Homo sapiens: one gene and its partners. Each later gene encodes a partner of the first gene's protein in a complex. Each region holds a gene or a part of one and is shown on either strand. Other genes may lie near its edges. The genes, in order: ARRB1, NTSR1 and GRM3. A codon is read from its position in the direction of its gene.

What was found.
Region 2: the proteins of ARRB1 (region 1) and NTSR1 are in contact, whole or in part, in a cryo-EM structure (PDB 6UP7), measured with the Homo sapiens proteins. Residues at the interface, in NP_004032.2 of Homo sapiens: Tyr63, Arg65, Asp67, Leu68, Val70, Leu71, Gly72, Leu73, Thr74, Phe75, Arg76, Lys77, Asn245, Thr246, Ala247, Gln248, Tyr249, Lys250, Lys284, Arg285, Gly286; in NP_002522.2 of Homo sapiens: Ser93, Leu94, Gln95, Ser96, Leu97, Gln98, Thr100, Val101, Arg166, Ile170, Pro173, Lys177, Phe286 (codon at 2,649), Ser287 (codon at 2,652), Met288 (codon at 2,655), Ala289 (codon at 2,658), Ile290 (codon at 2,661), Ala297 (codon at 2,682), Leu298 (codon at 2,685), Gly301 (codon at 2,694), Ser368 (codon at 7,935), Asn370 (codon at 7,941).
Region 3: the proteins of ARRB1 (region 1) and GRM3 are in contact, whole or in part, in a cryo-EM structure (PDB 9II2), measured with the Homo sapiens proteins. Residues at the interface, in NP_004032.2 of Homo sapiens: Gly5 (codon at 4,076), Thr6 (codon at 4,073), Arg7, Val8, Phe9, Lys10, Lys11, Ala12, Ser13, Pro14, Tyr21, Arg25, Arg65, Glu66, Asp67, Leu71, Gly72, Leu73, Thr74, Phe75, Arg76, Lys77, Arg103, Leu104, Lys107, Pro133, Arg236, Phe244, Asn245, Thr246; in NP_000831.2 of Homo sapiens: Pro605, Lys608, Ala609, Ile669, Phe670, Asp671, Gly672, Val673, Lys674, Asn675, Ala677, Gln678, Arg679, Lys681, Phe682, Ser684, Cys761, Pro762, Glu763, Phe765, Val834, Val835, Thr836, His837, Gln855, Ser856, Ser857, Ala858, Ser859, Thr860.

Annotation. Positions count from the first base shown.
Region 1 is NC_000011.10:75,347,520-75,358,069, forward strand, and holds the start of ARRB1 (beta-arrestin-1), read right to left. Parts: upstream 4,143-10,550; 5' UTR 4,089-4,142; coding exon 4,069-4,088; intron 1-4,068. UniProt on the Homo sapiens protein: Functions in regulating agonist-mediated G-protein coupled receptor (GPCR) signaling by mediating both receptor desensitization and resensitization processes.
Region 2 is NC_000020.11:62,752,178-62,761,990, forward strand, and holds part of NTSR1 (neurotensin receptor type 1), read left to right. Parts: intron 1-2,507; coding exon 2,508-2,709; intron 2,710-6,088; coding exon 6,089-6,179; intron 6,180-7,840; coding exon 7,841-8,090; 3' UTR 8,091-9,813. UniProt on the Homo sapiens protein: G-protein coupled receptor for the tridecapeptide neurotensin (NTS). Signaling is effected via G proteins that activate a phosphatidylinositol-calcium second messenger system.
Region 3 is NC_000007.14:86,644,948-86,654,760, forward strand, and holds part of GRM3 (metabotropic glutamate receptor 3 isoform 1 precursor), read left to right. Parts: intron 1-9,813. UniProt on the Homo sapiens protein: G-protein coupled receptor for glutamate. Ligand binding causes a conformation change that triggers signaling via guanine nucleotide-binding proteins (G proteins) and modulates the activity of down-stream effectors.

The DNA of each region.
Region 1 (10,550 bases):
TAAGTGGAAACGGCAAGGCCCAGAAAGGACGCACAACTTGAGGCTGGGAGCTGCTGGGGAGGCCAACTGTGAGCCAGACAAGGCCCCCTCTCTTGGGCAAAAGCGTCGAGTAGCAGAGAGGGCTTTGTGGGTCAATAGGCCTGGGTTCTTATGCTTGCTGGCTGAATGGCAGTGAACAAATACTTAATCTCTTCTAGTCTGTTTCCTCATCTGCAAAATGGGGACAACAATGACTACACTACTAGATTACAGTTGAATTCATTGAGATTATGCGTGTAATTCTAACACACACCAGATACCTGGCAAAGGTCCAATCGACCAGCAAGGTTGATGGACTCCACCTCCTATTCACATTCATATTTCTCAACTCTATCCTCTCTGCAGCCTAAGTTCAGAGCTCACAGCCTTAGTTCTCAGGTTTCTCCCCAGCCTCCTCACTGGTCTTCCTGCTTCTAGGCCTGCTCTTCCCATCCACCCTACTTGGCGCTGCCAAAGACATCTCTCTGAAATGAAAACATCTGCTTCCAGCCCTCTGCTGCCTCACACTCTTCTCTGAATCACCATCCACTTCAGGAGAAAATGCTCTCTCCTTAGCCTGACATTCCCAGACTGCTGGTGACCGGTCTGTGTTTACCTCTTAAGGCTCACTATCATCCCCAGCCCAGGCCCCAGGCTGCACGCCTTGCTTCCTGCCTCCAAGCCACTGCACATTCTGCACCCTTGGCCAGAAATATCATTCCCAATCCCGCCCCCTTGGCCTATTCATCCTTCCAGATGAAGCTCAGTAGTTCCAACGCCACCTCCTTTCCAGGAGAGCTTCCTGTACCATGCTCCCTGCCTGGGCCTGGGTTGGGGACTTCTCCTTAAGCCTCCCACAACACATGTCATCCTGCGTTATGACCACCTGCTCTGCTCTAAATCCCTGGAGGACAGAGTAGACTCCTTCCTTGCTGAATCCCCAGGCCCTGGGCACTCAGAAGGCACTCATCAACATTTGTTGAATGAATATATGATTGTTCCCAGAGCACCTTGCAGCAACCATCATACTCCTGCCCTGTGATTAGTCCTGTCCAGGTATTTTTTTTTTTTATTTTTTCAGACAGGGTCTCACTCTCTCATCCAGGCTGGAGTGCAGTGGCATGATCATGGCTCACTGCAGCCTTAACCTCCAGGGCTCAAGTGATCCTCCCACTTCAGCCTCCAGAGTAGTTAGGACTATAGGCATGTGCCACCACACTCAGCTAATTTTTGTGTTTTTTGTAGAGATGGTATGTTGCCCAGACTGGTCTCGAACTCCTGAGCTCAAGCAATCTGCCCATCTCAGCCTTCCAAAGTTCTAGGATTACAGGCGTGAACCACCGCGCACAGCCCTGTCCAGGTATTTAACACCTCTTTCCCCCTTGACCCTGGGAGTTCCTAGAGGGCAATGACAGTTTGTGATAAATTTTCATTGTCACTTTCACATGGGGGTGCAATTCCAGATGGAGGGATGGTTGCGATGATTCCTGATGTTCAGTTTTTGATATCTGCAGATTCCTCTTCTAAGTCATAGGTACTCATGCCTTACGGAAAAAGACAAGGTACAGCCCATTACTGATTTTGCCCTTCTTTTCCAAATTACTTAGCCAACTGTCCGGAAAGGGACAGAAAGGCCTCATGGGGCTGCAGGAGAGTCTGAAGGGGAGGTCTGGGCCACCATCAGGTGGATTTAGCCGGGCCTTGGCTCCAGGCTTCAGGCAGTGCCTCTTCCCCTGCCCAGTGAAGTCAGTAAGTACAAGGGAAGCCCTAAAATGTAAGTATTGATAGCTCCAGTTTACAGATGGGAAACTAACGTCCGGAAAAGTAAAGGCAATTGCCCAATGTCCCAAAGGTCCACCAGTGAGTTTGAGGCAGGGCAGGGGGAGCCATGGAAAATACCTTGGCCTCAGAGACAGGGTCTCCAACAGGTGCCTGGAAGCCCATGGTGTCCACATCTTCCTGACAATCATGTCAGCAGGACAACAATGACACTTATCCCCCAAGTCACAGAGAGGTACAGAGAGACCCAAGAGAGGCTGAGTCACTCCGATCACAAGGCAGCCTAGGAAGGACAATGGAGTGGAGAATGGCTCCGACTCCCTGCTATGCCCTGCAGGAAGAAAAGCCTGACCTCATGGGTCAAGAGGGTCTTAATTTCAGGGCAGATGGATGTGGCTGGGGAAGGAGTCACATACCTTCCTACTGAGGACAGAGGCCTAGGTCACAGTGCTGGCCAGCCAGCTGCAATGGGGACTAGCCATCAAGGTTCATGCAGACACAGCATGATCTTCTGCCGTCCCCCCCAAAGCCTGGGCCTCCAGCACAGAGCAGGGCTCCCCTCCCTGGCCCATGAGGGGCCTGGCAGTGCCCTAGGGCCATCCACAGAGACATGACCAAGTGGACTCCAGCCTCCGCCCTGCCTCTGGCCCCTTTTGACCTTAGGCAAATCACATGGCCTCTAGCCCTCTGGTTCCTCTGCTAGAAAACAGGAAGAGGAAAATTAACCTCCTGGAAGAGCTGTCAGGAGGATGGCTGGAAAGTAGTTTCTAAACATTAAGAGCCTGAGTTGCCTCTGAGCCTGTTTCCTCCTCTAGAAAATGGAAATAATCTCTGCAAGCCCTTTCTCACACTGTGGAGAGAGAGTCTTAGATGGCAGTGGGTGAGAAATAGCTTTGTCAGTGGCCCTGAAAGGTGGTGCCCACCGGGGTGGTGTCTCTCTAGTCTGTTAGCTCCTTCAGGGGAGGAGTGGGCCTTGCGCATCTTTGATCCCCCACACTACGCCTAGTATACAGCAAGAGCTTAATAATAAATGGAAACGAGGAGAGGGGAGGGGAGGAAAGGAAGGAGGCAGAAGTCGGACACAAGAATAGAAGAGAAAGACAGAAAACAATGAGAAAGAGGGGGAGCCCAGGGAGAGGCTGCTGTGCCCACTTAGGGGGTGGGGAGGGCAACGGGGAAAATAGGGTGGCAACGCTGAGCCCCTGACCAGCGCTGGTCCTGTCTGAAGGGCTGCCCCCAGGGGCTGTCCTGCTCCAGCCCCCTCCTCCTTTTGTCCCAGTTTCCCCTTTCAGAGGCAGAGACTGTTTCTGAGTATTTCAGGACAGGTTCTAGGAGAACGGGAGGGGTTCTCCCAGCCCTAGGTTCAAAACAGCCCCTGGCCAGCCACTCCTCAGGAGGTCAGAGGGAAAGGGAACAGAGTAGATGGATGGGATCTATTTGGATGAAATGCGATCTGTTTTCCCCAGGCTGGGGGTGGCGGGGGGCGCTCTACCCTGTGTGATGTGTGTGTTTCCACTTCTGGCCATGTGGGGCCTGAAGCGTGTGTGTCAGCGGGCCTTGGGCTAGCAGCTCGTGCCTGTGGGGTGCCAGTCTTTGAGGGCATCAGTCTGATTGTGTCTGTGGGGGTCAGTGTTGGTGTGGCCTTGCGCTCCGCTGTGTTGGTGAGACATGCCAGCACAAGTGTGTGTGCCAGTGAGGGTGATGTGTGTGCCAGCAAGAGTGTTTGCTACAGCGAGTGCAGGTGACAGTGTGCGTATCAGTGTATGCCCACACGTGTGTGCCAGCACGAGGGTGTGCTAGAATTGGTGTGTGTTGGATTGTGAGCTGTGCATGCCAACAAGGCTGTCAGCAAGAATGTGTTGACCGAGGCGTGTATGACGGCGTGCCACTGCGTGTGATGAGCGTGTGCTAGCGGTTGCCAGTGTGTGCGCCAGCATGCCTGTGCCACGGGTTAGTGTGCCCGTGCGTGTATTGTGTGTCAACCTGCCCCCGTGCGTCTCTGCGGCTGCCGGCCAATGCTGGGTGTCAGCGAGCTGTGTGTCCGGGCCAGGAGCTGCGGCCCACATGGGGCGGCCCGGCCCTCGCCCTTTGGGTCCCCCCGCCCACGGCCCTGCCGGGGAGACCACACAGGAGACCTCGGGTGGAGGAGAGCTGGTACTAGATCCCGCGGTGGCCGCGAACGCAGAACCAGGACGCAATCGGAGCCCCCGCCCGTGTCCTCGCCGAGGTCGCCCCCACGCGCCCCCCGCCGGGCGGCCGCCCTGCACTCACCGGGTCCCTTTGTCGCCCATGGTCCGCGACGGTCGCAGGGAGGTCCGCGGCGTCAGCGCCCAGGCTGGAAAATCCCCAGCCAGCAGGAGGAGCGCGGGCCAGCCCGCTCCCGGCTCCCTGCTCCGCCTCCTCCGCTCTCCCGGCCGCCGCCGCCGCCCCCGCCCCCGGTCCCCGCCCGCCGCCCGCCGCGTCGAGCAGCGCAGCGCCCGGGCCGCGGCCAGGGGCGTGGAACCGCGCGGGGTGTGTGCGTGTGTGTATGTGTGTGTGTGTGCGCGTCTGCGTGTGCGCGCGCCGCCCAGCGAGGCAGGGCAGCGCGGCGGGACGCGTCAGGGCCCCAAGGTCGGCGTTTGTGGTGGGGGAGGGGGTCCACCCGCGTGCGAGTCCGTGTGAGAGTGTGTGTGTGTGTGTGTGGTGGTGGTGGTGGTGGTGTGGTGTATGTGAGGGCGCACGGCTGTGTGCGGGCCCTATTAGGGAGTGTATTGGTGTGGATGGAGGAGTGTGCACGTCTTTGTGCAGTTGTGCGTGTGTGCGCACGGCCGTGGGTGCGAGCGCGCTCTCCCGCGCATGCCGGGGCAGCCTTTGTGTGTGCGGGTGGTTGGAAGCCGAGGGTCTGGCGACCCCGAGGCCGCGCTCCCTGCGGCCCCTCGCTTAGCTGGAGACCCCGGGATGCCTGGCAAGGCCTTCGCCCTGTGCTCCACCCTTCCCCATTCCACCCACCCCACCCCCTTCTACTGGAGAGATAACACCCAGCCACACAACAGGGACAGGAAGAAGGGGCGGAGGGGGCAGTAGACGGCCTTGACACTGGGGAACTGAGCGGAGACCCGCGGCCAGCAGGGGCTGCAGGAGGCCGCCCAGGAAGAGGAAGCTGTGAGAAGTGAGAAGAGGCGATAAAGGAAGAGGGCAGAGCTGGCCCGCTGCTGTGACCGGGTAGCACCGTGGAAAGCGCCCATGCCCAGCTCCATGGCTCGCTGTGGGTGACCCTGTGCACTAAGCTTCTGAGAACCCATGTCCGGACCTGTAAAGTGAGGATACACTAATATCAGCCTGCAGAATTGTTAATAGGTTGAAAGAACTCGCTTGTGTTTGCTGGCCTCCCCTGAGCGCCTGCATACAGTAGGTGCCCAGTAGATGTTAGCCCACTTCTCTGCAGGCTTCTTGATGTCCTGTGAAATCTTGGCTGGGACCCTGCTTTGTCTGAGGTGCCTTCCTGCTTTGCAGGTAGTGGGAAACGGTAAGGTCTTTACCACACCCTCACTACTGAGATTTGGCTAATTATCCCGGATAGGTCCCTGATATCTAAGTATTAAGGGGAAAGTAAGCTATCATTTACTCTGATGCTGTTGTGAGTATGTAAACATCTCCTGTAATTATGCTCAGAAGCAGTTACCTATACTGTTTATATGCAGTATAATTACTATAATTATGTCCAGATTTGGCAGAGGGGCAGGGGGAGGCTGATGGGTAGGCAGGGTGGCCCACCTCTGGGCAATGTTAGGAGCTAGAGAGTATGGATGAAAGCCCAGAACCCTCCTCCCAGTCTTGGCCTCTGGGTTTCACCCTCTACAGAGGAAGAAGAGGAAGCCACCTGTTGTTTCTGCAGGGCTCAGAGATCTGGAAAGGAGCAGACTAGAATCTTCTTTGATGACAGGAGATCCCTAACCAGGATGGTGAAGCCAGGTCCTGCCACTCTCCACATCAGTTTCCCCACCTGTAAAACAGGTTTGACCAAACCATAAGATCTCCAATGGATCTCTCCATGCTGATGCCCAAAACATCTAAATATATTTATTTATTTTATTTATTTTTGAGACGAAGTCTTGCTCTGCCACCCAGGCTGGAGTACAATGGAATGATCTTGGCTCACTGCAACCTCTGCCTCCTGGGTTCAAGAAATTCTGCCACCTCAGCCTCCCCAGTAGCTGGAATTACAGCCACTGCCATCATGCCCAGCTAATTTTTGTATTTTTGTAGAGATAGGGATTCACCATGTTGGCCAGGCTGGTCTCGAACTCCTGACCTTAGGTGATCCACCCACCTTGGCCTCCCAAAGTGCTGGGATTACAGGCGTGAGCCACTGCTCCCGGTCGATTTAATTTACTTTAAATTCCAGTGAGGGAGCAACGATGGCAGAAGAAGAGTCAAGAGGACAATTTTGCTTTACCTGCCAGGCTCTATGAAAAACATATATATATATATATATATATATATATTTTTTTTTTTTTTTTTTTTTTTGAGACGGAGTCTTGCTCTGTCACCCAGGCTGGAGTGCAGTGGCGCAATCTCGGCTCACTGCAAGCTCTGCCTCCTGGGTTCGGGCCGTTCTCCTGCCTCAGCCTCCCGAGTAGCTGGGACTACAGGCGCCCACCACCACGCCCAGCTAATTTTTGAAAAACATATTTATGTATTAATAAAATGGCCGGGCATAGTGGCTCATGCCTGTAATCCTAACACTTTGGGAGGCCAAGGCGGGTAGATCACTTGAGGTCAGGCGTTCAAGACCAGCCTGGCTAACATGGTGAAACCCTGTCTCTCCTAAAAATACAAAAAAAAAAAAAAAAAAAAAATTAGCCAGGCATGGTGGCGGGCGCCTGTAGTCCTGGCAACTTGGGAGACTGAGGCAGGAGAATCACTTGAACCTGGGAAGTGGAGATTGCAGTGAGCCGAGATCACGCCACTGCACTCCAGCCTGGGTGACAGAGCCAGACTCCATCTCAAAAAAAAAAAAAATTAATAAAATGTAAAAGTGATAATGTTGAGGAGAACTCTTTGTATATCCACAATATAATCTCAGCCAGTAATAAGTTTTATGAAGAAAATAAAGCAATAATGAAACAGGGTGATAGGGACAAGTAGACTTAGAAAAAGGCCCTAGGCCCTCCGAGGAGGTGGGCTTTGGGCTGAAACCTGCGGAAAAGAATCAGCGATGTGAGGGGACAGTCAGGGAAGATGCTGCCCAGGCAGAAGGAGCAGCAACTGTAGAGGCGCAGGAGCAAGGACAGTGCTCCTGGTGTTGGTGAACAGGCAAGGGGTGGTACAGGTGAGGCAGCAGGGTTGGGGTCACACAGAACTTGTAGTTGAGGATGAGGAGTTTGGGGAGCCAGTGGGAGGTTTAAGCAGCTGAGCACCAGTATCTGCTTTACATTTTTAAAGGTCACTCTAACTGTTGGATAGAGATGACTTGGTACTGGACAACAGCAGAGGCAAGGCACCCCATTATTGCAGTCGTCAGGGTGGGGTTTTGGGCAAGACAGGTGGCCACAGAAATGAAGGAAGTAATGGGGTTCAGGATATATTTGGGAAGCAGATTTTTTTTTTTTTTTGAGACAGAGTCTTACTCTGTTGCCCAGGCTGGAGTGCGGTGGCACGATCTCAGCTCACTGCAAACTCTGCCTTCCAGGTTCAGGCGATTCTAGTGCCTCAGCTTCCTAAGGTAGCTGTGACTACAGGCGCATGCCATCCTGCCCAGCTAATTTTGTATTTTTAGTAGAGACACGGGATTTCACCTCAAGTGATCCACCCGCCTCGGCCTCCCAGAGTGCTGGGATTACGGGCGTGAGCCACCACGCCTGGCCGGGTTCAGGATATATTTGAAAGGGGAGCTGCCAGCACCTACTGAGGGACTGGCTGTGAATAATGGAGGATCCAGGATGACTCAGAGGTTTGGGTCAGGGTCTGTCTGTGCCAACTCTCCATGTAATTCTCCAAGGGAAGTCACGGTCGAGAGGACTGGTGGCCTCCATTCTTCCCGTCAACCCATTTGTGTCACATCCTCCACCTGAGCAACAGAGTGATTTTTGCTCAAAGGCAAATGGCTTCTGCAGCTGAGGCTCATAGGAGATGGTCATCTCCAACTGTGTTCCAACTAGGGCGAGTCACATGCCTGAAATTTACCACTCACAATCATTTCTTATTAAAAAATGAGAAAGGGTGGTTCTGGGTGTGGTGGCTCATGCCTGTAATCCCAGCACTTTGGGAGGCTGAGGCAGGAGGATTGCTAGAGCCCAGGAGTTTGAGACCAGCCTGGGCAACATAGTGAGATCTCTACAAAAAATAAAAAAACAAAAAACTAGCTGGGTTTGGTGGTGTGTGCCTGTAGTCTTAACTACTCGGGAGACCAAGGAAGGAGGATACCTTTAGACCAAGAGTTTGAGGCTGCCATGAGCTATGATTATACCACTGCACTCCAGCCTGTGCAGAGACCCCTGTCTCTTTAATAAAAAAAAAAAAGAAGAAGAAGAAAGAAAGCAAGAAAAAAAAAAAAGAAAGAAAGCAAGAAAAAGAAAAGAAAGAAAAGGAGAGATAGAGAGAGAGAAAGGAAGTATTATGTCTGCTTTTTAGATGAGAACACAAAACTTTACAAGGGAAACTGCTTAAGCCAAGGGCATAGCAAATGAAAGGTAGAGCAAGGACTCAAACCCAAAGCTTCTGCGTAGCTGGGCAGGTAGCTGAGTGTCAGACTAAAGTCAGACTGAAGTGTAAGTGAGTGGGTGGATGAGTTTTCAGCTCCTTGTTCAACAAAGGACTTGAGCTGGGTGTGGTGGCTCACGCCTGTAATCCCAGCAATTTGGGAAGCTGAGGTGGGTGGATCACCTGAGATCAGGAGTTCAAGACCAGCCTGGCCAACACCCTGTCTCTACTAAAAATACAAAAATTAGCCAAGTGTGGTGGCACGCGCCTGTAGTCCCAGGTACTCAGGAGGCTGAGGCAGGAGAATCGCTTGAACCTGGGAGATGGAAGTTGCAGTGAGCCGAGATCATGCCACTGCTCTCCAGCTGAGGCGACGGAGTGAGACTCCATCTCAAAAAAAAAAGGACTTGAGCCTGACTGAAGCCTTACTGATGTGCTCCTTCAAGATGTTAGAAATTGAGAAACTAATAAGGAGCTTCCCTACCTCTGCCCAACCAGAAATCTGAGTGTGATCCTTGACTCCTTTCTTGTCCACCTCACTCCTTAGCTACCTAGTCCCGGACTACCTCCTAAGTGTCTCCCAATAAAGTTGGAGGGGTACCAGGAACGAGACCATGCTGGGCCTGGAGGGTCATGTAAGGAATTTGTTCTTCATCCAAGTATCAATGAAGAGGCTGTGCAGAGAGGTGACATGATCAGACATGCATTTGGAGAAGATGCTCTGGTGGATGTGTGAAGAATGGATTGGACATGCACCAAAAGGGATGCAGACAGGAAGACCAATTAGGACATGGTGTCAGCAATTCAGAGGGAGGAATGATAACTGCATTCCAGAGAGAGGACACACAACAGCTGCAAAGCCAGGAAGGAAGGAAAAGGCACAATGCTTGGGGGAATTCAGATGGATCTGTGGCGAAAGCAGAGTAGTGGGGAAGGATTGGAAAGGAAGATGGGGCCGTATCCTGAGGAAGCAGGCTCAGACAAGGCATCTCCCCAGTATGGCTCAGGGCCTGTTTTAGGTTTGTCTAACAAGATCTCCAGTCCCCATTTTCCTAAGATGGGATTGTTGGTATTTATCACTAGGTGGACATTTCAATGTTATCTTTTTTTTTTTTTTTTTTTGAGATGGAGCCTCGCTCTGTTGCCCAGGCTGGAGTGCAGTGGTGCGATCTCGGCTCACTGCAACCTCTGCCTCCCGGGTTCACGCCATTCTCCTGCCTCAGCCTCCGGAATAGCTGGGACTATAGGCACCCACCACCACGCCCAGCTAATTTTTGGTATTCTTATTTTTAGTAGAGACGGGGTTTCACCGTGTTAGCCAGGATGGTCTTGATCTCCTGACCTCGTAGTCTGCCCGCCTCGGCCTCCCAAAGTCCTGGGATTACAGGCGTGAGCCAACGTGCCCAGCATCAAAATTCTCATTTGTAATCAACAAAAACCAATTCTGGCAGACTTAAACATACAAAAAAATTATTGGCCATATATTCAGGTAGCTGCCACTGCTGAACAATGGACACCACAGTTCACATCTCCACTTTCTCCAGCACCAAACCCAACCCCATTGCTGCCCCCAGAAACTAGATATGGCCACTGCTGCCTCTGTCACCATGATGGACTCTTTGTTGGCCCTACATCTTTGAGTCAAAGTCCCCCATGCATTTGATTGGCTGAGTCTAGGTTATGTGGTCCCACCCTTGCTTCAAGGATGCTGAGAAACTGTGTAGATGGCATTTGAGATTTCCATTCTGGGAGGTGGGCTTTGACTTACTGTAAGACTCATGGGATAGAGAATTCCCCAAACATGAGAATAGAGTTTAGAGGCTGAGCAGCCAAAAACAATTCAAGTATCCACTTCACTATGAAATGCAACTGGGTGAGTTATAGGAATAGCTCAGAATGGGAGGCAACATGAAGGGATAGATGTCCTTGCTGACAGGCCTTTGCCAGGATGCCTTAGTGTTGCTAGCTTTCTAAAACAGGGAGAAAATGATTCTGACTCTGTTAATGGTGGAGTATTATCCTCCACCCTCCTCCAGATAACAATATAAATGTTGGACAAAATATAAAAACAA
Region 2 (9,813 bases), on another chromosome or scaffold:
CCTCGCTCAGTCCTCCCCTCACCTCCCCTCACCCCCAGCAGCATCGCAGGCTTTCCTCCGAGTCCCCGCGCTGCCGATGGACGTGCTCCCTTTGCTTGTTGTGGAGGTGGGGGGCAGCTCCTTACCCAGAGCGGGAGAGATTACAGGAAAGGACGGCGCAAGCCAAAGCCCCTGCTTCCAGCTGTGCGTCTGGGAAGAGAAGGCCGGCCCCAGGAGTCGGGGTGCATTCCCCTCACCCCCCAATCCTACTCGGCTTCAGTCTCCAGGGTGGGCAGGTGGGGGAGGCGGGGGAGGGCCAGACTTCCTCTGCAAGGCCCCGCCTCTGTCCCCACACGTGGCCCTGCGGCAGACTCTGTTCCCTCCCTCTGGAAACGGCAGGATCCTCCAACGGGGGCAGCCAGGGGGCCGGGGCCAGACCCTACAACCCACCAGCCCCCAGAGGTAGCTATTTTTGCAGCCAGCCGTGTTGGTGAGGTTGGTATTTTAAATGTTTTGACATTTAAAATCTGTGTTGGATACATTGGTGCTGTTTAAACTATCCCCGGGCTGCGGTGACTCACAGGGAATGGGTTTATCTCCTGAGGCTGGGCCTGGCCTCCCCTGTCCCCGCTCCCAGCAGCCGGAGTGGGAAGAGGGAGTTTTTACCTGCCCCCAGTCTCACCAGCACCTTGTTGTCCTGCAGAAGGTGGACTTCGGCCAGAGCAGGAGAACAGGAGGGACGCGGGACGGCCTCAGATCCGGACGCCCAAGCAGGGGAGGGCAGAACAGACCCGCCACCCAGCCAGGGTCAGCAGCGGTGGTGGTGGCTCTCAGGAGCCCACACAGGTGGCACGAGCAAGGGGCGCTGGGCTGGCAGGTGCAGGATGCTGCCTCCCGGGGGTTTGAGTGCCCCCTCTCCATGCATGTCCTCTGATCTGTTAGCAGAACTCTGCTCAAATGGAATGTGAGGGTAAACTCAGGCCGCCTCCTTCCTGAAGGCCTCTGAGTGCTTCTGAGTGGAGCCGGGAGCTTCGATGGGAGCAGGAAGGACCTCCAGAGGTGCCTCAGCCGGTGCCCAGAGGGGGCCAGGGAGAAAACCTGCCGACATTCCCACGACCCCAGCACCTCTCAGTGGCTGCCCTGTCCCATGGCCACCGCCGCCTTCATTAGCGAGACACGGCGAGGATTGTCCTCACCGGGACCATCCTGACTTGGACTGTTGAGGCCATGTGGCTCTGCCCTCCCTTGTGGCAGGAGGTTGGGAGGGAGGTGGCCCCTGCAGCCCAGCCCAGGGAATCCCACGGCAGATACCCCTGGACTTTCTACCGCAATCACAGCCACCAGCCACAGAGCTAGTACAGGCCGCTTCTCCAAGACACCCAAAAGCTTCTTGGAATCAGAAATTCAGCATGAGGATCCCGGGCAGCTTGGCAGAGAGGGGGCAGCCTCCGTCCCCGGCACAGGATCGAACCCGCAAGTGTGGCAGCCAAAGACGCCAAGATCTGGCTTGCAGAGAAGAGCATCTTACAAAGAACCGAAGGCCAAGGAAGATTTTAAAGCCATTGATGGCTGTTATTCCACTGCCCCAGGGAGGGGTGCCGGTTTCTCCATTGGAAGCCGGGCCATGGCCGTCCTGGCTGGTTCTGCTGCTGCCAGTCCGCAGACATGTCCCCTTCCTGTTCTGAGCAGCAGCTCTGGTTGAGGAGGAGGCTAGGCCACTGCCCATCTGGGGAAGTCACAGCCACCCTGCCAGTGCCTACAGAGTCACGTCTCAGCCAGGAGTCGCAGAAGGAGCGGGACTCAGCTCAGGCCAGGCTCAAATCCAGGCACAGCCCCCCTTGCGCTGGAGTCTTTGGGCAGGACCTCTACCCTGTCCAGGACTCGGATCAGGTGCAGGGTAGCTATGATGACCCAGCCTTGTGGGTTGATGTGGAAGCTAGAGGTGGGGAGTGGGGGCTCCAGGTGCTGATAACAGGGGCCCTATACCTTTCAATGCTCTGAGAGGTAGCTGGGGTGGGAGGGAGGAAGGGGCCTCTATTAGTGTGAGCTGTCAGGACCTAGGAGAACTGTCTGCACACAGCTACAAGGCCAGGGCTTGACTCTCCCACAGGACGGGCCTTGGGGTGGGGCAGCCACGTGCTTGTGGGCCTCAGCCATGCACACAACATGTCCAGACCTGGGAACCTAGAGCCTAGGGCCTTTGCCACAGCTGGGACACCCCAGTGGTTGTGTTCCTTGCTGTGTACAGGCGGGACCCTCGGGAGGGACTCATGAAAGTAGGGGAGTCTGCAAACTTCTTCCCAGTCAGAGGCAGGGTCGGGGGCAGGCTGAGGGCCAGCTTACAACAGCAGCCAGGGGTGGCCATGTCTTCCGGGCAGCCGGGATAGGGCCGGACCTCCTGAACTTGTGTTGACTGAGCACCTCACACTGAGCAGGCCTGACACCCCAATCAGCACGGCAGGCATCCCAGCTGAGGGTGCATGAGTCCCGCTGCTGGCTCTGACAGCCTCGCCCTTCCTCTCCTGCAGGTCAACACCTTCATGTCCTTCATATTCCCCATGGTGGTCATCTCGGTCCTGAACACCATCATCGCCAACAAGCTGACCGTCATGGTACGCCAGGCGGCCGAGCAGGGCCAAGTGTGCACGGTCGGGGGCGAGCACAGCACATTCAGCATGGCCATCGAGCCTGGCAGGGTCCAGGCCCTGCGGCACGGCGTGCGCGTCCTACGTACGTAACCTCTGGGCCCTCCAGGGGCGGGAGGCAGGCCAGGGCTAGCAAAGGCAGCGAGCGCTGAACCACCCCAAGCCTGGGCAAGGTTTAAAGACATAGGGATGGAGCTGTCAGGCCAAGACCCAAGGGTGCCAGCTCCCCCGAGGGGTGAGTGCCATTCTGCACTCCATCCCTCCCTCCATCCTTCCATCTATCCTTCCCTCCCTCCATCCATCCATCCTTCCCTCCCTCCCTCCATCCATCCTTCCTTCCCTCCATCCATCCATCCCTTCCTCCTTCTATCCCTCCACCCCTCCCTCCTCCCTTCATCCCTCCCTCCATCCATCCATCCTTCTCTCCCTCCTTCCCTCCATTCACTCCTCTACCTCTCCCTCCATCCATCCCTCTCTCCCTCCTTCCCTCCATTCATTCCTCTACCTCTCCCTCCCTTCCTTCCTCCCTCCCTCCATCCATCCATCCCTCTCTCCCTTCCTCCCTTCATCCCTCCATCCACCCTCCCTCCCTCCATCCATCATTCCATCCATCATCCCTCCATCCATCCCTCCATCCATCCATCCATCCTCCCTCCATCCCTCCCTCCCTCCATCCATCCTCCCTCCCTCCATCCCTCCCTCCATCCATCCTCCCTCCGTCCATCACTCCCTCCCTCCATGCATTCTCCCTCCCTCCGTCCATCCCTCCCTCCATCCATCCTCCCTCCCTCCATCATCCCTCCCTCCCTCCATCCCTCATTCCATCCCTCCCTCCCTCCCTCCATCCCTGCCTTCATCCATCCTCCCTCCCTCCATCCATCCTCCCTCCCTCCATCATCCCTCTCTCCCTCCATCCCTCATTCCATCCCTCCCTCCCTCCCTCCCTCCAGCCATCCTCCCTCCCTCCAGCCATCATCTCTCCCTCCCTCCCTCCATCCCTCCCTTCAGCCATCCTCCCTCCCTCCATCCATCCCTCCCTCCCTCCATCCATCCTCCCTCCCTCCACCCATCATCCCTCCCTCCCTCCATCCCTCATTCCATCCATCCATCCCTCCTTCCATCCCTCCTTCCCTCCCTTGTTCCATTCCTCCCTCCCTCCATCTATCCATCTCTCTGTCCATCTGTCCACTTGCTCACGTGCTCACTTATTCATTTGCTCAGCAGTTGGCTGAGTGCCCACCCTGGGTCTCGCCTATTCTTGCTCACAGGCATGGAGGCAGCAGAGGCAGGGGCATCCCTGCACTCTGGGGGAACAGGGGCTCCACCAAGGACACAAACACAGGCACCAGGCACCTTCAGCCAGTGATGAGCATGAAGAAAAAAATACCACCACCACCACCCCTGACTACATCTGGCAGCTGGGAGGGGCTCTCAGAGCAGGTGGCATCCTGCAAGTCCCAAGGACCAGGAGCCCATCTGGGCAACAGAGCTGCAGGCGAGGGGATGGCTGGAGCAAAGGCCCTGTGGTGGGAGGTGCTTGGCAAGAAGGCGGGGCAGGGGCAGGGCAGACGCTGCCAACAACACAGGGCTTGGAGAGTGTGATGGGAACTGGAGAGAATGAAGCCCTTTCATGCCTGAGACCCAGGTCTTCAGTTTGGTTTGCCTGAAGCATTTGGCTTGAGCTCCTCCCTGGTGCTGGCCCATTTTCAGGGCTTGTTTGAGGGTGTGGCCAGTCACAGGAGAGGCCCATAGCCAAGCACATTACCCTAAGAGAGCCTGGCTCTGGGCTCAGCCTTCCCTGCTCATGGGAACCAGCCAGGGCTTTGGACACGGAGCTCTCAGGGCTGGCGAAGCCCACAGCAGGGCAACGCCCATCCTATCGGAACCCTGAGGACCAGCCCCAGCTCAGGACGGCTGGCTTGCCAACATCCAAGGTGTGTCCTGGTCCCAGTGTGTGCCTGTTGTTTTAATAGTAGCCATCCTAATAGATTTGAGGTGGCATCTCGTTGTGGTTTTGATTTGCATTTCTCCAGTGATTTAAGATTAATGATTAATAACATCTTTCATGTGCTTGTTGACCATTTGTATCTTCTTTGGAGAAATGTCTGAGTCCTTTGCCCATTTGTGAATTGGATTGTTTGTTTTCATGTTGAGTTTTAGGAGTTATACTCTCAAGGTTAACTCATTATCAGATGTGATTTGCAAATATTTTCTCCTTTTTTGTGAGCTGACTTCCACTCTCCTGATGGCATCCTTTGATACACAGAAATTCAGTGTTTATGTTGTTCAATTTATCTACTTTTTTCTTTTGTGGCCTGTGCTTTTGGTGTCATACCCAAGAAATCATTGCCAAAATCAATGTTGTAAAGTAATTATGTTTTCTCCTAGGAGTTTTATGGTTTTAGTTCTTATGTTCAGGTCTTTAATCCACTTCAAGTCCATTTTTGTATATGGTGTGAGGGGAGGATCCACCTTCATACAAGTGGATGTCCCGTTTTCCTAACACCCTTTGTTGAATAGACTGTCCTTTCCCCACTGAATGGTCTTGGTGAAGATCACTTGACCATAAAGGTAAGGGTTCGTTTCTGAGATTTCTAGTCTATTCCCTTGGTCTACGTGTCTATCTTTATGCCAGCACCACACTGTAACTTTGTAGTAAGTTTTGAAATCAAGAAGTGTAAGACCTCCAACTTTATTTTCTTACAAGATTGTTTTGGCTGTCCGGGATCCTTTGAGATTTCATATGAATTTTAGCACAGATTTTTCTATTTCTGCCAAAAGCATTCTTGAAATTTGATACGGATTGCATTGAATCTGTAGAGTGCTTTGGGTAGTACTGACACCTTAACAATATTAAATCTTCCAATCCATGAACATGGGATGTCTCCCTGCATCTCCCTCAGACCACGTGTCTCCTTCTCTGAGGCCATATCTCTGTGTCTCTAAGCCCATGTCTCTGAGCCAGTGTCTACCTCCCTCAGCCCATGTCTCTCCCTCTCTGAGCCTGTGTCCTGTCTCTGAGCCTGTGTCCTGTCTCTGAGCTTATGCTCCCTCCCCAAGCCCACGTCTCTCCCTCTCTGAGCTTGTGTCTGGTCTCTGAGCCCATGTCTCCCCCACTGAGCCCACGCCTCTGTGCCTCAGGTGCAGTGGGTCTCTGAGCCCACGCCTCTGTGCCTCAGGTGCAGTGGGTCTCTGAGCCCACGTCTCTGTGCCTCAGGTGCAGTGGGTCTCTGAGCCCATGTCCTGTCTCTGAGCCCACGTCTCTGTGCCTCAGGTGCAGTGGGTCTCTGAGCCCATGTCTCTGTGCCTCAGGTGCAGTGGGTCTCTGAGCCCACGTCTCTGTGCCTCAGGTGCAGTGGGTCTCTGAGCCCACATCTGTGTGCCTCAGGTGCAGTGGGTCTCTGAGCCCACGCCTCTGTGCCTCAGGTGCAGTGGGTCTCTGAGCCCACGTCTCTGTGCCTCAGGTGCAGTGGTCATCGCCTTTGTGGTCTGCTGGCTGCCCTACCACGTGCGGCGCCTCATGTTCTGCTACATCTCGGATGAGCAGTGGACTCCGTGAGTACCGGGAACCAGGAAGTTGGGTGCTGGACAAGTAAGTGCTCCCAAAACAGATGGTGGGTGTGGCAGGCACTGCTGAGGGGATCCACTCAGGGCAGGGGTGTGGTGAGTCCCCCGGCGACCCCCTGGGCAGGGTTGTGCTGTGACTGGGGCCGGGAGAAGGCCATGGAGGGACAGGTTCAAGGCAGGGGCTATTCAGGCCAGACTGGTGCAGAGAAAGAAAGTTGGTCCTAAGAGAGATGGCCCAGGCAGTTTCCCGAAGGTGAAAGAGAGACATCCCTGGCTCTGCTGGGGACATGGTGGGGGTGTCACCTCCTCATATGGCAGCTGTCAGAGCCCCAAGGCCACCCAGGTTGGACCCACAGGGCTCAGCCTGGAGTTATACTCAGGGCTGTGACTTATCGCAGCAAGAGCACCAATACTGACAAAGCTTTGCTTATACAGCAAAGTCAGCAAAGGGAAAAGACACATGGAGTGGGGTCAGCGGAAGACCAGATGCAGCTTCCAGGGCCCCCTCCCAGAGGAGCCTCACAGGACGATATGGGGGCCGATCACAGGGGCACCCACTGCCTGGCAAAACCCCTACTGTTTGCACCAACAGTTCAGGGGCAGGGAGCCCTTCTCACCCAAAAATGGCAGAGCCTTCCCAAAATCCAAGGCCCCAGGCACCAGCCAGAGGCCAGCCTTGCCAGCTGGCCATCCTGAGATGGCAGCTTGGGGCCCACTTGTGAACCCTTTTCTGTGCAGTGGGGCTGCCAGATCCCAGAATAAAAGGTTCCTTCCAGTGACAACCACCAGGGAGGGCGCACCTACGACCAATGAGGAGGAGAAGGCACGGGGAACAGAGTGTGGCCCCTGCAAAAGCTTCTGAAACTCAGGGCTGACTGGTAGTAATTGAGCTGCCTGGTGAGGGAGTGAGATCACTGTGGGGGGAGGCAACAAGCTGAGGGCAAGGTGTGTGGCTGCTGGGGAGGTGTGGAGGGGGTTACTGCCCTGGCTGTTTGGTTAGGCCGGGACCAGCCAAGCCCTGGACCCTTGGATGCACAGAGCTGCGAAGGGCAATGCAGGCAGCTGCAAGGAGAGGCAGGGATGGACAAGCAGAGCCCACGCTCCACCTAAAGAAGCCCAGGCTGGGTGGGACACGGTGGCTCACGCCTGTAATCCCAGCACTTTGGGAGGCTGAGGTGGGTGGATCACGAGGTCAGGAGATCGAGACCATCCTGGCTAACACGGTGAAACCCCGTCTCTACCAAAAATACAAAAAATTAGCCGGGCGTGGTGGGGGGGTCCCTGTAGTCCCAGCTACTCGGGAGGCTGAGGCAGGAGAATGGTGTGAACCCGGGAGGTGGAGCTTGCAGTGAGCCGAGATCGCGCCACTGTACTCCAGCCTGGGAGACAGAGCGAGACTCCGTCTCAAAAAAAAAAAAAAAGCAGCAGCAGCCCAGGCTGGGCGGGAGCACGACGAGAACTTGCAGCTGCTCAGGAGAAGCCAGACCCTGGAGCTTGTTATGAAATGTCCCCAAACAACCATTCTCAAGGGGTGTTTTAATTAGCGTCTGAGCCACCACGTCCCTCAGCCGCTGTGGCCCCGGCTGTCACCCTGCCTTGGGGCCCTCAAGAGTTCTCTCTGGGATCTGAGCGCCTCTCTCTCCCCGCAGGTTCCTCTATGACTTCTACCACTACTTCTACATGGTGACCAACGCACTCTTCTACGTCAGCTCCACCATCAACCCCATCCTGTACAACCTCGTCTCTGCCAACTTCCGCCACATCTTCCTGGCCACACTGGCCTGCCTCTGCCCGGTGTGGCGGCGCAGGAGGAAGAGGCCAGCCTTCTCGAGGAAGGCCGACAGCGTGTCCAGCAACCACACCCTCTCCAGCAATGCCACCCGCGAGACGCTGTACTAGGCTGTGCGCCCCGGAACGTGTCCAGGAGGAGCCTGGCCATGGGTCCTTGCCCCCGACAGACAGAGCAGCCCCCACCCGGGAGCCTTGATGGGGGTCAGGCAGAGGCCAGCCTGCACTGGAGTCTGAGGCCTGGGACCCCCCCCTCCCACCCCCTAACCCATGTTTCTCATTAGTGTCTCCCGGGCCTGTCCCCAACTCCTCCCCACCCCTCCCCCATCTCCTCTTTGAAAGCCAGAACAAGAGAGCGCTCCTCTCCCAGATAGGAAAAGGGCCTCTAACAAGGAGAAATTAGTGTGCGGCAAAAGGCAGTTTTCTTTGTTCTCAGACTAATGGATGGTTCCAGAGAAGGAAATGAAAGGTGCTGGGTGGGGCCGGGCCTCCGGCGGCCCGGCTGCTGTTCCCATGTCCACATCTCTGAGGCCTGCACCCCCTCTGTCTAGCTCGGGGAGTCCAGCCCCAGTCCCGCAGGCTCCGTGGCTTTGGGCCTCACGTGCAGACCCTGCCATGCAGACCCATGCCCCCCTCCCCCAGGCAGCTCCAAGAAAGCTCCCTGACTCGCCCCTTCAGGCCTGGCAAGCTGGGGGCCCATCGCCGTGGGGAGTCCCTCCCACCACCCTCGCCGCAGGCAGCTGCAGCCCCCAGAGGGGACCACAAGCCCAAAAAGGACAAAAATGGGCTGGCCTGGAATGGCCCAGACCCCAGCCTCCCCTCCTCCCTCCCATCCTCACCCAGGCCAAGGCCCAGGGGCTCTGCCAGGACACCACATGGGAGGGGGCTCAGGCCTCAGCCTCAAGATCTTCAGCTGTGGCCTCTCGGGCTCGGCAGAAGGGACGCCGGATCAGGGGCCTGGTCTCCAGCACCTGCCCGAGTGGCCGTGGCCAGGATGGGGTGCGCATTCCGTGTGCTTTGCTTGTGGCTGTGCAGGCTGAGGTCTGGAGCCAGGCCCAGAGCTGGCTTCAGGGTGGGGCCTTGAGAAGGGGAATGTGGGACAGGGGCGATGGTGCCTGGTCTCTGAGTAAGATGCCAGGTCCCAGGAACTCAGGCTTCAGGTGAGAAGGAGCGGTGTGTCCAGGCACCGCTGGCCGGCAGCCCTGGGCTGAGGCACAGACTCATTTGTCACCTTCTGGCGGCGGCAGCCCTGGCCCCGGCCTCCAAGCAGTTGAAAAAGCTGGCGCCTCCTTGGTCTCTAGGATCCAGGCTCCACAGAGCACATGACTAGCCAGGCCCCTGGCTTAAGAAGGTCGCCTAAGCCTAAGAGAAGACAGTCCCAGGAGAAGCTGGCCGGGACCAGCCAGGAGCTGGGAGCCACAGGAAGCAAAAGTCAGCCTTTTCTTCAAGGGATTTCCCTGTCTCAGAGCAGCCTTTGCCCCAGGGAAATGGGCTCTGGGCTGGCTGCCTGCACCGGCCATGTCGACCCAGGACCCGGACACCTGGTCTTGGGCTGTGTTCAGCCACTTTGCCTTCTCTGGACTCAGTTTCCCCGTCTGAGAAATGAGAGTCGAATGCTACAGTATCTGCAGTCGCTTGGATCTGGCTGTTGAGTTGACGGGTTCCTTGAACCCCACAAAATCCCTCTCCAACCACAGGACCCTTCGGCTCACCAAGAACAGGGCCCAGGGGAGTCAGGCCTATTCGCTGCACTTCCTGCCAAACTTTGCCCCCACAAGCCTGGTCATCAGCCAGGCAGCCCTCCCAGTGCCCAAGGGCCACCAACCCCAGGGAA
Region 3 (9,813 bases), on another chromosome or scaffold:
GCAGGCGCAGCCGGGAAAGTTGAGGTAGAGCATGGACCAGTCCCTACAGTCCTGACTGGAGTGGGAAGGGTGGAGGGCAGAGGCGATGTGGGTGTGCATGAGTGAGAGTTTGTGTGTGTGCGCCCACGTCTGTGTCTGGGAGGAGGGAGATTTCAGGGCATAGATCTGCGGCCAGGGTGCGAGAGGTGAAGGGACGAACTAGCACTCGCAGACCCCAGAGAGACCAGTCTCATCAGCCAACCACCTCCATCTCAGCTCTGGGCTCAGAATTTGTTTCTATTTGGGGGCTCCCTAAGGCTTTGTGCACAGGAATCCGTGGATACGGGCGGTTTCATGTGGGTGTGGAGGTTGCAGGCAGAGGTGGGCAACGGTCAGCGAGACCTGGTCCATGCAGCCCAGATAAGCTCCGAAGCCGGAGGCGGCCAGAGGTTTGCCCTCCCGCAAGCAGGGTTGGAAAGGAGCCTTAACTCACTGCCCTTTGCTCCTTTTGGCTTGAGTGAAAAATCGAAAAGCCAGACAGGGAGCATATCTTTTCATCGACCCTGTTCCATTTTCTTATCTGACAGTGAGATAACTCAGAGAGGGCGGGAGATTTGCGATCCAAAAATAGACTAGGTGATATATCCAATAAGCTTGTTTCTTAAGGATTTCATTTAAATTTCTTTCTAGTTATTCCTTGGGTTATCAAAGGTGGACAATTCTCTAAGGTACAACACTTTTAGGTAAATATATTAAGGAAGGATTCTCCCACTTTAAGTATTTTAGATATTGTAAATTTTGAAAAACAAAACTATACACCTCTAAAGATCTTTGGTTAAGGACTCAACTAATTTGCTTATAAAAATATTTCTACTATTTGAATAGTAATAGATATGTTTGGGGTCTATATGTAGGTACATATTGGAATATTCAAAGTTGAGGTTAATGTGAGTTGAGGTAGGTGTGAGTTAAGTACCAACAATAGTTCCTTAGAGTTTCTTTGCTTGAATTTCTTAGAACTGTCCAGCACAGCTACAGTATGTTTCTTTGTGGTGGGCGGGGGGGTGGGGGTGGGGGGGTGGGGGGGGGTGGGAGGGAGTTTAGGGGGTGGAGTCTGCTTTGGTTTATCTGATCACACACTTTAAGATTCCTCTCTGAATTCTAATTGTTTGCAGAAGTATATTCAATATAGGCATTACTAAAGTAATCTAGATTGCCACTATGCTAAACTATGGATAACAGTTCCTAACAAAGATGCTTAGGACACTCTAATGAATAAATATGATTCTATATTCCTACGTACCTTGTTTCTAAAATCAGCCCAATAGAATTTGAATATATTTGGAAGCTATTGTATGCCAGAAATTATTGTAATACTTTTCCTTTCACAATGGGTAGTGTTTTATATTTACAAAGATTTCTTACACCTGTAGACTTTAGCTGTCAATCTTATTGGGTTTTGATCACCCAGCAGGAGTACATAGATATTTTGAATATACATGCCCAAAGGCTATCTTATGTTCAGAGTAACACAGGAGCTCAGGATGGAAAATGAGGAAAGGAAGTCTTGAAACCTATACCTTAACAAATAAAACAATGAAATTCCAGAATATCTACCTTTATTAGATGAAAAAGAATATGGCAACAATACCTTTTAGCATTGAAACCCCTCCTGCCCCTAGATACTATATATCTAGGTATAAAACTGTGGTTTTATGAGTTAGGCCCTTACCAGTGAAATGTGAAACCTAAATCATAGAAAATTATGCCAGTACAATGAATAGGCCACACTTTGGAGCTTGAAACAGATGTCTTTCTATTTATTTAAATTGAATGGTATTTTTCAAACTTCAGGAATATATGATCAGTAACAAGAAAATGTGTGGAAAGCCACACACACAAAAAAATCTTATAATTAAAATATACTCTGTGACCTACTTATTTTTGCACAATGGGCTTTTTAAAAAGTTGTGGTATACATGTGAAAAGGAGTATAAATCCGATGATTTAACCCACAACTACACATATCAAAATGATGAGCTCATCTTTAATTTTATATCACTGTAATTAAAATTGGTAAGTTGAACAAATGCAAATATAACGAAATTGATTGAGCTTTATGTTTAAGTTGAAATTAATATTTGTATTGAATAAAAGAATGGGGATAATTGTCAAAAGCTCACTGCTTCACTTCTCTATGACAGGTGATTAGCTGGAATCACACAATTGAAGATGTTCTTATTTTGAAAGATTCTCAGCAATAACATTTTACAACTTCCCTGGGTACATTTTCCTCACTTTTATTTCATGTCGAACTATCTTTTTGCCAAATAAAACTGTTGTCTTTCTTGTCCATTCTTCTAATAGTGATCAGTCGCAAAATGAAGCATGAGGTTTTTCCAGGATACTAGCTACCTCCTGCCAAAATGTAGCACATTGGCTTGGGGGTGAATTTTCCAATTGTTTTCCTGCACTAAACATCATCCCAATATTCTACTAAACAAAAGAAATGAAAATGAATACCTAATCACTATTGTAAAACAAGGAGGGCAGGATTCAGTTACGCACACTGGAATGTGGCCAAAGTTCCAGCGTGAGACTTGTTTTCTCCAGGAGTAATTCTCAAAAAAAGGAGTACGTGTTTACTCACAGTTGTCTCACTTTGCTATTTTAAACTGAGTTTATTGTGCATTCTCACATCTTTTGAGACTCCACTAAATGGATCCAATACTGCATTAGATGAATTTGTTGAAATTGCTCCCAAGGAGGAGCATAAAATGATAGAAGATTATCTACCAAGTCTGAACACATAAAATGAGTATCATCATAGTAATCACTGAGACGGCAAAAACTATTAGCTCATACCCCTCCTTCTACTTCTAATGTAGGCTTGGTCCCCATAGCCTACTGTATTTTGGAGTACTTCAGTCCAGTCTGACTTTAAATGGATCACGTAATGACTTCTTCCAGAGTCTTTGAAAGACTATTTCAGTCTAATGGTTCTCCCTATTAAGAACTTTGTTGTGATATTCAGCTTAATTTTCTCCTGATTATATTTTATCTTGTTACTTAATTCCTATTATAAACCTTCTGGACTAGTTCATCCTCTTGTCTGATTCAGATTCTTCATCCAACATTTCTCTAGGACTTATAAAATACAAAAGCTTCACACAGTTACAGGAGAGAATACAAAGATGGCAATTCTATGTCCAGACATCTTTGCTAAATGTTTAAGACATTTTTTGCACACTTATATATGTGTATAACTATATGTTCCTAATAATTTAATTTACTAATGTAAGAATTAAGAAATTACCTTTTCTGATGTTAATGACCTATGTGAATATTAAGGTGGTACTTTCTGAGGAATGTTCTATGTGGATGCACATTATGAGACATTTTCATTGCAAATTTGTTTGCAACAGAACCCTGTCAACGCCCACACTACAAGGGAATTTTGTGACATGCTGGTCTGATGCTCCTCTGAGCCCCAGAAGCTGTTGTCATGTAAATTCCACTATTGAAATGAAAGTGATGTCCATAATTAATAGAATGTGCTAGGAATGTAATAGTGTATATAGTTTAGATGTGTATGTTAACAAAACATAGTAATTCTGTTAGGATTGGCAGTAGCCCCTTTATACTGAAACAATCTAAAAAACCCAGTGGAATTAAGGCCAAATTATTCACCGTGCTGCATTATGAAAAGTAAGCTTACATCATGCATATATCAATGTGGAATGTATTTCGATATATATGGAGGTACCATATGTGAAGGTTACTTTAAAAATAGAAAAGCCTGAAAAAAAAAACATAAAAAAACAGGTTTTCACTTTGTTCACTTGAAATCTTGTTCCAAGACATCCGTGTGTAGGCTTCTTTAAGATTCTTAAGCAAATATCTTGGTAGACTCACCATCCCACTCAATTGTTTCTCCAAGTTCCAGGCATTGAAATACAAGTTCTGCTAGACAGTAGAGGAGTAAATGATATAAATCAGGAAATAAGTTCCTAGGTTACACTTAGCAAGTCAAGAAAATATAAAACCAGAGGGAGGTGAATCAGCATCTAAAAACACCATTTAGTGCTATCTTACTGCTTGTTAAGCATTCGACGGTACATGGAAACACTCACGTGGATTAGGTTAAGAAATCAAGGAGGAGACATCTTTCCAAAACTTATTTTTAAACAAATAAAATTAGACTGCACGAAATAATTTTTAAACAAGTACTCTCCCTCCTGAGGTCCCAAAGTATTTTTATAGTGCTATTCATCACATAGTGGTGAGCACCCTCCAAATGATTTTCCTTAGAAACAAAAGGAAAATCAATTTTCTTGGTATAGAAAATGTAGGCCATTAATATACCTATAGCTTCTCTCTGGAACAGCAAGGCATCCAAAGAATCTGTGCCTACACAGAGTAAGTATTTCTTCATCATATTGAACAATCTTTTTATTGAACTGGAAATTGTACACTGTACTTTAAGGAGAGAAATAAACTTGGAAAACATTCTGATATAATCTACGTAGGCATAGATTAAGGCACCAGTTTGAAAATAAAGCCATATATAGAGAAGGCACCTCCACAAAAAGCCCAAAGTAACTCTGATCTTTAATTTCTTATCAGAATTTACTTCACTACTTCACTATCATTGACTGTATAACTACACACACACATATTTGAGTAAATTCAGTTGAAAGGGTATAGATATCTAAACAGATTAAAAAAAATCAAAACCATGATGCTAGATACATAGTTTGAAAAAAACTTACAACCTATATATGTAGCATGGGAATATTAGGAGTATAAAATTTGAGAAGATTCCTCTAAGAAAGAGTCTATCATCAGAAAGAAAAGGTAGCTAATAGGGAAACAATTAGTCAATAAATATTTATTAAGTACCTATTTTGACCAAAACAAAATATAGGACATGCATTGGGAACACAAAAAAATGTTCACACACAAAGTTTCACAAACATGTGTAAAGTTGAAAGTGCTGCAAAAATCAAACTTGAAATTTGAGAGTAGAGAAAATGTTACCAGAATTATCAACCAAATGAAAAAGTCTGTTCCTTAACAGATGCATTCATATTTAGGATTTTAAATGTGTGTATATATTCTGATGCCTTGTGGAGACAGTGTTGTATGCTGTGAGGTGACAAAACTAATAATAAGTCAAAATAATAGGTGATAATTATTAACCAACTTCCCTGTGTGAAGAACTCTGCTATACAAGAACTATACAGTACCTGTGAAGTAGGTACTGGGATCCTCATTTTATACAGAAGAGGAGATGGAGGCCCAGCAAGATAAAGTAACTTGCCCAAGTTCAGGTAGTTAACAAGGCTGCAACTGGAATTCAAAACCTACTTTCTTATTCTAAGACCTATTTTCTTTACTACCAATATTGCCTCACAATTTTTTAATTTATTTATTTATTTTAATTAATTTATTTATTTTACCAGGCTTCATTGCATTCAACAAGTGTTTTCTGAGCTCCAAGTAGAGGGACATGCTTTGGTAAGGAGGGCAAACAATAATCAATGAAAGGGAGTCTAGAATAGACTTCCCCAGGCTCAAGATCTTTCTCCACTCCAGACACTGTCCCTTCTGAGAGGCAGAGACATGCAAATGGAAGAAGTAAGCTAAAACATTATTTATAATTGACTAGGACTAAGGATGAAATTCTAAAATAGAAAAGTCTATGAAGATTATAAATGAACAAGCTGAGAAATAAACACCAGGTCTGAAAGTGTGAGGAAAATATATTTCTTGGAGTCTGATTTCAATGACCATTATCATCTGTAAAACTTAGTACAGTGGCAAGAATATAGTCTCACAAAAAGCCAGGATAGAGGTGAGTAGGATTTCTGCTGAGGCTAAAATGCTGATGTTTCTCTCCTCTTACAACCTACCTACTTCCCACCAGGAAAACAAGCTGGTAAAAAAGTTTTGTAGTATAGTAAAATTTTCAAATTTCTTTACCCTGCTGAAGTAGTAATGGTTCATCTTTATGTTAGAAAACTCTCAGCATTTTACACATCGGGACATTTATCCATAATATATACAACAGCATGAAACTGGAAGGGATCAGGGATTATGAATTTTAAACACACTAAGAATAGGAGATGCAAAGTGACCTGCTGGAGATTCCAAAGACTGTTGGTAGTGCTGCTCCAGGAAAACCCACATCTCATTATTCTCTGACCTCAGTGCCTTCCCACAGACAGGAAACCTGCTGTCTTAATTGCATGAGCTTATACTTCTTTTCACACTTCTTTTCACACAACCAAAGGGCTGAAACAAATCTTTACTTGAGGGTCTTTCTCTGATTTGTGATATGTGCTAGAGTAATTAATGGACATAAAAAAGGAACAGATATCACAGATCGCCCCTCCATCTGGTGGAGGCTGTTTCTTTTGATTGTTAATAATAGATAGCAGATAGATTATTAGTAATATTTGCTTAACAGTTTCAATGAACCATGTCTTGGTGAATACAACATAATGGAAGCTGCTTTTACAAAATATGTCAGAATACATGCCAATCTGAGAGATGGCACTACAAGGTCAAAAACGTTGGAATTTATATCTGCCTCAAGGAGAAAAGGATATCTAGAGAGTATAATTAACTTTCTACTTTGGAACATCTTGTTTTTCCTGAAAAAGCAGAGACCCTCTACATGCTTATGCATTAATCCCAGTGATTTCTGTGGAATCCACATATATGGACTGGTGACCAGTCCATACTATATTGGTCACTACTACACTGGTAGCCAGACCATACCTAACTTCAAAATTGATTAGTAGACAAGACATGAACTTAGATGTCTAACAAATCTCTTCCATAGATTTTGTTCAAGACGTCCCCTTGAAAAAAATGTTTTGAGGAATGCCAAAAGTCCCACTTCCCCCAACACCCAAAATATATTTTTCACTACCTTCCTTGGTTCATAAAATTTTCCAAATTTTAAACTGAAGTATTTCATCCAAGAAGTACTAAAGAACATATAGTTCTAGAACCACATAACGTACTAACCCTCCAACACATTCTGAATTTATAGGCTCATTTTTCAGAAAAGGTAACTTTACCAGTTTAGTAGGGAGTAGGTAGAATGAACAATTAATTTATTGAATTTTTACGTACTTCACGACCTTGTCTAAGACAAGCCCTTCCTTGGCTATGGTTTCCTAAACACTCATAATGCAGTAATTTGAAAGGAAACAAGCCTTCTCTTAGTTGTTGAACAAATGAAGCCCTGGTAGGAAAAAGATTGAGGTGTTAGAGTGCTCACCCTCTACTTTTTTTTTCTTCTTCTAAGGTCCTAAATTTGTGTTTGTTGCTATGTGATATAACAAGACAGGAAGGAAGATAATTTTTGTTTGTTTTTTGTTTTTGTTTTGTTGTTGTTGTTCTTTTTTTGAGATGGATTCTAGCTCTGTTGCCCAGGCTGGAGTGCAGTGACGCAATCTCGGCTCACTGCAACTTCCGCCTCCCGGATTCAAGCGATTTTCCTGCCTCAGCCTCCCAAGTAGCTGGGATTACAGCCGCCCGCCACCACGCCCAACTAATTTTTGTATTTTTAGTAGAGATGGGGTTTCACCGTGTTTGCTAGGCTGGTCTTGAACTCCTGACCTCATGATCCTCCCACCTTGGCCTCGAAAAGTGCTGGGGTTACAAGCATGAACCATGGTGCCCGGCCAGTAGCCGATAGTATTAGGTCCACTTCTCATATGGAAAATGCTGGAACATTTGAAGTAGGAAAGGGTAAGAAAATTGAAAAACGAAGAATAGTTAACCTCTCCCTTTCCTTTATACTCCCCCATGTATTGAACAACAACAACAAAAATCATCTATTTACCTCTGCTGTAAATAGTCTGTGAAATTATTGCCCAGAGAGCCTGCATTAGAATCACTTTGAAGTTTACTTAAAATGAAGAATGCTGGGACACATGCATCCCAGGCTAATTGAAACGAATGTCATATAGATTGAAGTTTTGGAATCTGCATAGTAAGTAAACTTCTGATTATTCTTGGGATTTGAGAAACATTGTTGTCTTAGTCTGCTCAGACTGCTATAATGAAATACCATAGACCAGGTAGCTTAAACAACAAACATTTATTTTTCACAGTTGCAGATGTTGCGAAGTCCATGATTAAGATTATAGCAGATTCAGTTCCTGGTGAGAGTCCTCTTCCCAAGCCACTTTTTTACTCTGTGCTCCCATAGCTGGGAGGAAGAGGAGGTGCTCTGGGCTCTCCTCCTCTTATAAATACATGAATTCCACCATGAGGGCCAAACTCTGATGGCCTTTTGTAAACCTGATCATCTCCCAAAGGCCCTGTTAGTAAACGCAATCACATCGGGAGCTAGGGCTTCAGCATGTGAATTTTGGAGCAACACAAATATTCGGTCCATAACAATTACATGTAGAATGATGGTCATACACAGAATATCCAGTGAATTTCTTTTACCAAATTACTTTCCACAGCAAGTTCATTCTAATTGGATTAACCAGTTGTATAAAGTACATTCTACAAGCCTGAGTACTAATTAAGCTCAACTAATAAGGCACAGTTTCTATAAGTTGTATGAATAGATTTTCTAGAAATGTCCTATTATCTTCGTTGTAAAGGAAGTTTTCCTGTTACCTATAGTAAGTTCCCATGAGATATGCAAACACATATAATAATACACATCTTTTGGATATTCTTATTCGGAGACTTCCTCATTTTTAATCTTTTATCCTGTATTTTATCATTATATTAATATTAATATATTAGAAAGAGAAGTTACTGGTATTTGAAGAAGTTACTGATATTCTTATTAGAAAACCTTCTCACTTTTAATATTTTATCCTATATTTTATCATTAATATTAATATATTAGAAAGATAAGTTACTAGTGTTTGAAGATTATCATTAATGAAAAGATTATTTCTTAGAAACTCTCCTCGATTTGAATAACTGCACTCTTAAAATTCAAATTGTCTTTATAGTTATGCCCTTATGAGCTAGGGGATGTGGGAAAACTTCTGTCACAACTCTCCCCACTGCCCTCTAGATCTGCAGCGTGGGGGCAGGGGAAGGACCTCATTTGGCAACTTACACATTCTTCACTCAGCGTCCACTTCGTTCAAGTGAATGGTTGCTTAGCTAAAGCCGGCAATCCTCACAAATACTGCCAAAGATAGTTTCCTAAGCAGCGTTCAGAGCCACATGGGAAAAATGCCGAACAGGAAGTGAGGGACTGGCAGCAGGGAGGGGGAGGCTCAGCCTGGGCCACCAGCTTTACCTCCCAGGGGTTTTGTGCTCCCTCTTTGCCTTCACTGGAATGCTACACTTAGTAGCTGACTTCATGAAGAGAAAAGCAATAAAAAACAGAGCACACCCCCACTCTCCCAAATATTTTAATGGTTTGAATTTTTTAAGACTCAGGAATCTCAGAGACAAAACTGTTAAACTGTTGAAAGTTACACCGTGTCTCAGCAGAGCCTGGCTTTCTTGACCGTTCTGATGGTTACAGTACTTCTACCTGATGATGTCACTTCTACTGGACTGTCCCACTCACACAGCAGTCTCTACGTATCTAAAGCCAAAAGCCCACTGCCTCCCCCAACTAGCAACTTATTTTCTGATTCTAAGAGAAACATGATTATTTCTCCATACAATCATTCAAAATTGTGGAACTGCCCATGACATTTTTCTTCTGTTTAGTCCTCTGTTGATTCCTTCCTAAATGATATGGCAACTTCTTTATTCTCCTACCACTGACAAAACCTTAGCCCAGGTTATCATCACTGTCCTCTCAATCTTTAACCATTTATCTCCTTC